Linked DNA regions of Homo sapiens. The protein of the gene in region 1 interacts with the protein of each later gene in a pairwise test. Each region holds a gene or a part of one and is shown in the gene's direction. Other genes may lie near its edges.

Region 1 (4,938 bases):
CCCAGCCCTGCCCCAGGCCCACTCCCCACCCAGCACACAGGGAAACCTGGGCTGTTTTGACTTCGCCTCTTCCAGCCCTGGGTCCGGCCTTCGCTGTGACCCCGGTCCATCCCGCCGCCCTCTGCACCTCTTCCTCCCTCAGGCAAATATATCGAGAACCACGGGGTGGTTCACAACATGTACTACAACACCACCAGCAAGGTGAAGCTGCCCTACCACGCCACGCTGGGCATCCAGAGGTGGTGGGACAACGGCAGCGTGCCCATCTGGATCACAGCCCAGAGGCAGGTAATGTCACCCCCGCCCATACTGACATCGCAGAGCACGGGGGCACCTAGGCCCAGGTGAGGCTTGGAACCATGTGAGATCCACGGCAGGTCCCTTCCCCACTCCAGGGTCTCGGGGCTCCTGGCCTACCCTGGCACAGAAGGGTGTGAAGTAGGGCCCCAAAAGGGGCAGGTGGTGGGTGCTGGTGAGGACTAACCAGTGAGCTACGTCCGGCTCGGCCCATGGACACAGCCCTGCCCGGTCCTCTCTGGGGGGCCCTGGGAGCAAGAGGGATTGCTCTGTCCCCCTAGTCGGAGGGAGAACTGCACCCTTGGGCCCTGCAGCATTGGGGGTGAGGGTCGGACAGGGAAGATCACTGTGACTCAACAAGAAAGCATTTAACAATTAGACGACTTTCTCCCTTTCCACATCCCTGTCACAGCTGAACAGCTAAATTCTAAAGGGCCAAAGACAAAATGAGAGGTGGGTTACAGTATTGACCCAGGAACCCCCCCACCCACCCCCAGTTTGCAATGCTCTGGGGGCTTCCTGGCCCAGAGGCGAGGCTTCCAGTAAACAAAGTCAGTGGAGGTTTCCAAGATGACGCTGGAATAAATGTCAGAGCCCATGCCCACCCCAGAGCCAAGTTATCCACTCAAGCCGGGGTTCCCTCACTCCAGAAGGATCATAGACACACTCAGGGCTCCTTCCACCGGCTGGTGAGCAGGAAGCCAAGGTAGAGACCCTGGCATCACAAGGCTCTTGATCCAATGAAAGAATATCCTGGGGGAGTGGACGGGCAGGTGGGATGGACAGTGATGAGGCAGACACTGCGTATCTGGGAACATTTTTTTTTTTTTTTTGAGACGGAGTCTCGCTCTGTCGCCCAGGCTGGAGTGCAGTGGCGCCATCTCCGCTCACTGCAAGCTCTGCCTCCCGGGTTTACACTATTCTCCTGCCTCAGCCTCCCAAGTAACTGGGACTACAGGCGCCCGCCACCACGCCTGGCTAATTTTTTTGTATTTTCAGTAGAGACAGGGTTTCACCGTGCTAGCCAGGATGGTCTCCATCTCCTGACCTCGGGATCCACCCGCCTTGGCCTCCCAAAGTGCTGGGATTACAGGCATGACCCACTGCGCCCGGCCTCTGGGAACATCTTTATACTGATGTCTTGTTTAGTGCTCAAGTCCAGTGGGCACCTGTTGTTTCCTCTATAAAATCAGGTTTTACCCCCATAGAACATGAGATCAGGGATGTTTTAGAAATTAAAGGCCCCGCAGCTGCAGCTAGGAGCAGGGATGGGTGGGTGGAACAGAGAAGTAGGCACGTGGGGGACAAATGTGTTCACAGGCATGAGACAAGGGGCAGCCCACTGAGGAGTCCTGTCTTTCACGCTGCCTTGTCTGGCAGGGCCTGAGGGCTGGCTCCTTCTTCTACCCGGGCGGGAACGTCACCTACCAAGGGGTGGCTGTGACGCGGAGCCGGAAAGAAGGCATCGCACACAACTACAAAAATGAGACGGAGTGGAGAGCGAACATCGACACAGTGATGGCGTGGTTCACAGAGGAGGACCTGGATCTGGTCACACTCTACTTCGGGGAGCCGGACTCCACGGGCCACAGGTACGGCCCCGAGTCCCCGGAGAGGAGGGAGATGGTGCGGCAGGTGGACCGGACCGTGGGCTACCTCCGGGAGAGCATCGCGCGCAACCACCTCACAGACCGCCTCAACCTGATCATCACATCCGACCACGGCATGACGACCGTGGACAAACGGGCTGGCGACCTGGTTGAATTCCACAAGTTCCCCAACTTCACCTTCCGGGACATCGAGTTTGAGCTCCTGGACTACGGACCAAACGGGATGCTGCTCCCTAAAGAAGGGAGGCTGGAGAAGGTGTACGATGCCCTCAAGGACGCCCACCCCAAGCTCCACGTCTACAAGAAGGAGGCGTTCCCCGAGGCCTTCCACTACGCCAACAACCCCAGGGTCACACCCCTGCTGATGTACAGCGACCTTGGCTACGTCATCCATGGGGTGAGTCGCCTGCTGGAGGCACCACCTCCAGGGGCTCCCTCCCCAGGCTCTGGGTCTTCTTTTTTTTTTTTTGAGACCAGGGTCTTGCTCTGTTGCCCAGGCTGGAGTGCAATGGCAGGATCTCAGCTCACTGCAGCCTTAAACTCCCAGACTCAAGCGATCCTTCCACCTCAGCCTCCTGAGTAGCTGAGACCACAGGTGCACACCACCATGCCTGGCTAATTTTTGTGTGTGTTTTGTTTTGTTTTGTTTCATTTGAGACAGAGTTTCACTCTTGTCATCCAGGCTGGAGGGTAATGGTGCCATCTTGGCTCGCTGCATCCTCCACCTCCTGGGTTCAAGCGATTCTCCTGCCTCAGCCCTCTGAGGCATTACAGGCGCCTGCCACCATGCCTGACTAATTTTTTGTATTTTTAGTGGAGACAGAGTTTCACCATGTTGGCCAGGCTGGTCTCGAACTTCTGGCCTCAGGCGATCCACCCGCCTCAGCCTCCCAAAGTTATGGGATTCAGGTGTGAGCCACTGTGCCCAGCTGATGTTTGTATTTTTTTGTAGAGACAGGGTTTTGCATGTTGGCCAGGCTGGTCTCAAACTCCTGGGCTGAAGCGATCCTCCTGCCTGGGCCTCCCAAAGTGCTGGAATTACAGGGGTGAGCCACTGCGTCTGGCCTCTCCTTCCATCTCCATAGAGGCACTTCCTGTTTCTAGCTGGTCCCCAGTTTGAGGAGTGTCAGCACCGAAGGGACACTTCCTTCACTATGCGGTAGGGTGTGTGCACATCTGTGTGTGCCCTCCACATTCAGGCACCAGGCAGTGGGAGTGTGTGTGCACGTCTGTATCCATCATGACCAGGCACTGTGTGATAGGCGTGTGTGTGTGTGTGTGTGTGTGTGTGTGTGTGTGTGTGCGTCCTACGTGTCCAGGGTAAAGTGTAGAAGTCCAGCCCCAAGGGTGACATGGAAGAGGTAGGAAAGAGTCAGGAGCCCAACCTCCCCTCAGCAGACAGCACAGGGATGCTGAGCCGGAAGCGAAGCACAGATTAGGGAGCAGACATCCCCGGAAAGGAAGTGACCGATGGGAGGCAGCGTTCAACACCGCACAGGCGGCAGGCCCCGAAGCCTGGAGCTGCCCGCTCCACTCCCATTTACTCAGGGTCTGGTCTCCGTTCATTTAACTGGACCTTCCCTGAACTTCACTCTTTAGGGTGACTGATCTTTGGAGGCTCAGAATTCGGGGAAACTGAGTCTTGGAACCCCTCCAGCCCTCACGTTGGTGCTCCTTCCTAAGGGGGTGTTCATAGGGTGGATAGGGTAGGCGGAGAGGGTCTGTTGCTCCCAGCAAGGACCCAGGACCCTTGCCCGCTCCCCGGCAGAGAATTAACGTCCAGTTCAACAATGGGGAGCACGGCTTTGACAACAAGGACATGGACATGAAGACCATCTTCCGCGCTGTGGGCCCTAGCTTCAGGGCGGGCCTGGAGGTGGAGCCCTTTGAGAGCGTCCACGTGTACGAGCTCATGTGCCGGCTGCTGGGCATCGTGCCCGAGGCCAACGATGGGCACCTAGCTACTCTGCTGCCCATGCTGCACACAGGTGAGGGCAGGGTGCCCCAAATCCCCGCCTGCTCTGGTGTGTACACGTGTGCACACGAGGGTGCCTGCATGCCTGTGACCAGGACACCCTTGAGCCCCAAGTGGGGCCACCTCCCCTGGCTTTGGAGAACACCAGAATCTCTCACATTCCCACAACACGTGACCTCTCACGAGCACCTCATGCATCTCGGGCGGCACGAGAGGGCGAGGGGGAGGAGTGGGCAGTCTTGCTCAAGAAGGGGCTGGAGGGAGCGAGGGTGGCCCAGGCGGGCCTGCTGTGCAGAGCCCACCTCCTGGCTGCTGGATCCCCACTCCCCACTCCCCACCACAGCAACCTGAGGGCCTCCTTTCTGGAATCTTCCTGTATCAGCCTCCCACACACACACCTCCCCACTGGAACCTGCCCCATCTTGGGGACAAAGGCCACCTGGAAACTGACAAGGTGGCGACCCCGGCGGGGGCCTGGCTGGAGAGGGGTGGGCTCTACTGAGCAGGGCTATGAAGGGCCGTGGTGGACAAAGGCCATGGGACCAAGGGGGCGGTGAAAGAGGAAGGAGGGGCTCGTGGGGACCAACAGAGGACCCCGAGTTTACTGTGGAGAGGCTGGGGTGAGGAGCCATCCCTCTCTCCCTCACAGGTCCTCTGGCTTTCCTTAGAATCTGCTCTTCCGCCTGATGGAAGGCCTACTCTCCTGCCCAAGGGAAGATCTGCTCTCCCGCCCAGCAGCAGGCCCCTCCTCGTGATGGGACTGCTGGGGACCGTGATTCTTCTGTCTGAGGTCGCATAACGCCCCATGGCTCAAGGTCAGAGACCCAGAAGGCAGAGGCGGGAGGGTGGCCCCACGCTCCCTGACCCTCCACCCTGATGTCCCAGCTACAGTCCTAGGCAACCAGAACAGAGCTGCCAGGCCCCGCCAAGCAGGTGACTCCCACTGACCTGGCTGCCCCAGAGAGGCCATCACCCCTGAGATCCCGAGGCTGACCCTTCCAGCCTCTCTGCTCTGGGCTTGGAGGAGGTCTTTCCAGAGCAGACCACCCGGACCAG
Region 2 (4,938 bases), on another chromosome or scaffold:
ATAAAGTATTTTTGTTAGAACATAACTTTATTGGTGCAGAGCCGTATTTTCGTTTTGCATTGCAGGAGGCTTCAGGTTTGCCATTTGGTAATCATGAATGTGTTGAGTAAATTCTTCTGCTGTCTGTCTATTCTGCAGGTGGACTGAAATGTCAGTTGGTAGTGTGTTTGCCAGGATTACATGGAGACACACACTTCTCAGTTAAGTGTGTGTCTGAACTCATAGCTAAATTGTGAACACTCCTGTTAGTTACTTTTTTGGTTCTTTGTATGTTGCATGTCAGGATCTGCTATGAAGAAGAAGGGGTGAGGTGAAAGAGAGGGAGGGGATCAGGATTCACTTTCTGTATTACCAGTGCCTGGGAGAAAGCCATTTATTATTTTCCTATTGAATTATGCCCTTTGACTTAGTATCTTCAGGCAATTCTTTTCCAGTAGCTCACCTCTGGCTGCTGTGTAAGGGGCTTAATTATTTGCAAACTGCCTTGAAATCCCTGGATGAAAGGCACTGAATAAGTGCACAGTATTGTTATTCAGATATGGAATTTAATGATCCATTATAGTTCATCAGGAAAATGCACTTTGCAGTGATGGTAGGAAATGTTTCCACCTGATAGAGGGTAATAATAACTGCTTAAAAGTAGATTCAGATTACAGATGAGACAATTAACTCTAGCCATGTGCTCTTCAATTTGTTGCAATTCATTTTGTGATCAAAGTGAGTCACAGAGGGCCAGATGGTCAGGTTCATGTTCAGATCTCTCCTAGGCCAGCCCTTCACTTCTGGGCCCACTGTCTGCACAGCCGACAGGACTTAGTTATTCATTAGCGCTTGTGAGCTGTTTCTCAGAATTCCTAATCGAGGCTCCTGTGATGCCAACAAAAGGGCTCAAGCCAATCTGTATTGTTGAGAGCAGTTTAATTTTACTTGGATTAACTTTCAGTGTCTCTGGTGTGGATCCAGTCTTAACAAAAAGGAAAGAGACCCTAGTGGCTCTCTATCTCTGCTGTGCCTGGCCCCTCTACTCTAGTTTTTGAACCTCAGATTTCAGGGGTGTGACATCTAGCTTATTGTAAATGCAGGCTTGATTGTTAATGAATGAGAGAATACTTAGATAAATAAATATCTTCCTGTGTGTCCAGGGGGTGAGAGCCAGTACTAGCTTCATGGGCATAAGACCTGTGCAGTTACATAGGCCCCCTTCCTCTTCCCTGCTCAGAAGGACCTCATATTTGGTATAAGGTTCTGCTGTTTTCTTCGGAAATTCTTAATAATTTTTGAACAAAGGGCCCCTCGTTTTCATTTTTCACTGAGCCCTGCAAATTATGTACTTACCTGGTTCTGGTGAGGAGCAGGGCATAGTGTGGAGTGGCAGGCCGCCCCTACTCAACTCATTGTAGACTCTTGCTAGGGAACAGTTGGTAGGACTACTGGCTTTGTGTTGCCACATCATTTGATTTTTCCAGGGGAAGCTGAATATTGGATATTTATGTGGAATTTCCTGATTTTTAAATATTGGCTCAAATCTTTAAAAAATTTTTGGATGAAAGCATATGTAAGAGCTAGTGTCGGCCTGGGGGCTGCTTGTCTCCCACTACTGAACAGACTGAAACATCTTTTTTTGTTTAATATCTTTGTGTGTCTCTGTTTTCTAAAGGCCTGGCATATAGTGGATGATTTGTGAGTATGCACCCAATGAATGGTTACAACTACCTGGAAAATAGAAAGATGCCAAAAAAACAAAACTTCAAATCAACATTGAGTCCCACTCAGGGATTGATCAGCTTCCTTTTTAACAGAGAATTCGACATGAAAGGCCGAATAATTTAATACCATGAGTACAGTGTGATTCCTTGCAGGTGAATAATCCATTACTTTTGAACCACCTGCCCTCTATTTAGTTGTTACTGACCAGATGGGGTAACTTGGCTGGGTAATGCCTGAGGACCTCCATGGGAGTTTGACATTTGAGAACACTCACCAAAATAATAGTTTTGATTTACTGAATCCGCACCATGTGCCAGACCCAGTGCTGACTACCTTGCCTGAATGTACTTCATTGATTCCTCAAAGCAACCCTTTGAAGTAGGTGTCGTGCCTGCCCATTCTGCAGAGTTGGAAGAACTAATCTCATGTTGGAATGAACTTAATCTGAATATAGTGCATGTTTTCTTGAATGTCTGAAGGTTATTTCCCCATTCCATTACACAGTCCAGTCCTGAATCAATGACTGGGCATGGTGTAGGACTGTGACATACAGAGAACATGGTCCCTGCCCTCACATAGAACAGAGAACAATATAAAATGTAACATATTTGTCAAAATCTGCAATTCAGATAGCAGACGCTGTAAATCTGCCTCCCTGTTTTTCTCCTTTCCCTGTCTGGATGTTGAAGAAGTTTCAGCGACATATGACCCTGTCAGAGGTACTCACAGTTCAGAAGTCAATGCTGGTTGCAAAAATTGGAATTTCTTTGGAAAAGAAGACAAGCTTTTGGCAGAGCTGGGGCCACATATGGGAACGCAGCACCAAGGCCTTGGGAATGACGGAAAATCGCTTCTGTATTGTTAATAGCAATATATGACCTCTGCTGTCCTCCTATCTTTAAATTTTATGTAAATATTTACAAACTGTTCATGTCCAAACTGAAACCTGCTATGAACTAAACATTTTGTAAACTCAGTAAGATTGCCCAAAATACAACTCAACTTTCACCTTTTTTTTTTTGTTTGTGATGACATTTAATTTAAAAAAAAAAGACAGTAGTTGCTTTTTTTTTTCTTTTTTTTTGTCAGTTCAGGGTCTTTTAATTTTTTCCCTTTACTTTTTTTTTTGTTAATTTCAAATGTCAGTCTATCTAAAACTGAAACTTAATTTTACTATCAGCATGCTACTCAGCTTCCGTAAGGCTGGAAATGTCCTGCGAATCTTACCACTATGTCTTTTCCAAGGGCCATTTCATTTCTAAAGAATGTATAAATTGAACCTCATCCTGCTAGTGACACTACTTCAAAATTCAGGCAGGAATTTTGCCATTTGTTTTTCCTTGAGCTATTTTTTTTCCAAAATAATAAATCTTCCCAATCCAAAAGCATTTCACATCATCCTTCATTCTAGTCATTGGAACTACAGCCAAAATGCCTCTCAGTCTTCCCCAGTGACTTCATAATCACCGTTTCTTCAGCATATTCCCTGGTTGACTTCTCCTTTGTTCCTTAGCCTCATAATGAATTGCCCTTTGGTTCTGAGATGTGTCATTTTCCTCCCTGACCTTTTTGTTCTTTTCCTGAAGGCTGTAGGACATGCTGCTGCTGATGTGATGAGAGCCGGCGCTTGGTTGCTAGGTCCCTCCTGTCCTTGTGTCAGCTTTCATTGGCTCCTTTCCTAAGCATTTAAATCCTCCACTTTCCAGTCCTCCCATTCATCTCATTATTCTCTTCATGTGTGCCTGAGCCTGTAGCTGGCATGTAGACAAAGTCCCAGTTAGTTAGAAGAAAGCTTTTCGAGTTTCCAAGTCTTCCATCACTCTAGTCTTGGGCCATCTTCTATTCTCCCTCCCCTGTCACTTTCTGCAGATACTTCAGGAATTTCCTCAAGACTTTCCAGGAGTCTAACCCAAAGACAGCTTAGACCTTCACTTCGGATTTTAAAGTTGGGAGATCCCAATGTGATGATTTCCATTCCACAAGTAGGAAACAAAGTGAATGTACATGCTCAGCATCTTTCCTTAGTATTTCAGTATCCATAGATTTTTGGCAATTTTTCTTTTTTTCCTATCCTGTATTCTTCTAAGCAACAGAAGCTCGTGGATAGTGCAAAATGGGCCAAGTGTCCAGAAATACTGTTGCTTAGAGGCAGATGCCTCATTCATTCATTAAACAAATATATACTGAGTATCTCTTACATGGCAGGCATAGTGTTAAGTGACCACAGTGCTAATGGGGAGCAAACCCAGTCCTGGCCCCTGGTCTCATGAAGCACGTCATCTGGTAGGAAGAATGGCACTGATCAGTTAGTAACAGATAACCCACTGCTCGTGAAGGAAAGTATTTCATACACCAGAGTGTCTAATGGGCAGATTTAACCTGGTCGGGAGGTTGGGGAAGCCCTCCCTGAGGAATTGTGGAGTGACCTTCCATCAGGGACAGTCTGAAACTTGAGATTCACTTTTTCTCCAGCTTCCTAATCCTATTAATTCACTACTATCTTTGGCCCTTTGGAGTATTGCCTAAGCCATGCTGGAACCTCTGGGGCCATTTTGGCAAATAATAGTTCCTGTATACAGAGTCCAGAATTGATTTATTTACCTGGGTCTTTAGAACCTGATAAAAACAGAAGTTAACTGCCAAGAGTACTGTTCATTTCCATACTTGGAAAAAATACAAGTTAACATTCTTATTTTGAACATATTTAGGTTGGTTTTGACAATATTTGAATGATCAGAAGCTACAAAGATATTCTCTCCCAGTCAGCTGATGTGTGTAGGGCCTTTGGTGAAAAAGTGAGTCTAAATAGTCTGTCTGAAGTCCCTGGCTACTCCAGAGCAGAGGGTCTCCATCCTCTGTGGCCCGAAGATTATTCCAAGCTTGTCCAACCCATGGCCAGCAGGCCTCTTGCGTGTTGAATGCGGACCAACACAAAGGTTTTTTGTTTTTGTTTTTGTTTGTTTGTTTTTTGTTTTTTGCTATTTTTCTTGTTTCAGCTCATCATGTATCATTAGTGTTGAGTGTATTTTATGTGTGGCCCAAGACAGTTCTCCTTCTTCCAGTGTGTCCCAGGGAAGCCAAAAGATTGGACACGTCTTATTTAGACCATTCTTAGATGCAAAATTAAGGAATTTTGACAGCATCTATTTAAAATAAATTGATTATACTTCATGCTAACACCCCTCTATTTTCTTTTTCTTTGATGATAGTTAACTTGTATTGAGAGCTTCC

Evidence for each region. Proteins that work in one complex are often made in the same cells at the same time.
Region 2: the proteins of ENPP7 (region 1) and BACH2 interact in binary tests that used the Homo sapiens proteins (3 or more experiments, as listed by UniProt).

What each region holds. Positions count from the first base shown.
Region 1 is NC_000017.11:79,733,366-79,738,303, forward strand, and holds part of ENPP7 (ectonucleotide pyrophosphatase/phosphodiesterase family member 7 precursor), read left to right. Parts: intron 1-142; coding exon 143-288; intron 289-1,677; coding exon 1,678-2,304; intron 2,305-3,675; coding exon 3,676-3,895; intron 3,896-4,531; coding exon of another isoform or gene 4,532-4,550; coding exon 4,551-4,681; 3' UTR 4,682-4,697; intron 4,698-4,938. UniProt on the Homo sapiens protein: Choline-specific phosphodiesterase that hydrolyzes sphingomyelin releasing the ceramide and phosphocholine and therefore is involved in sphingomyelin digestion, ceramide formation, and fatty acid (FA) absorption in the gastrointestinal tract.
Region 2 is NC_000006.12:90,289,404-90,294,341, reverse strand, and holds part of BACH2 (transcription regulator protein BACH2), read left to right. Parts: exon of another isoform or gene 1-1,859; intron 1,860-2,396; exon of another isoform or gene 2,397-3,092; intron 3,093-4,938. UniProt on the Homo sapiens protein: Transcriptional regulator that acts as a repressor or activator. Binds to Maf recognition elements (MARE). Plays an important role in coordinating transcription activation and repression by MAFK.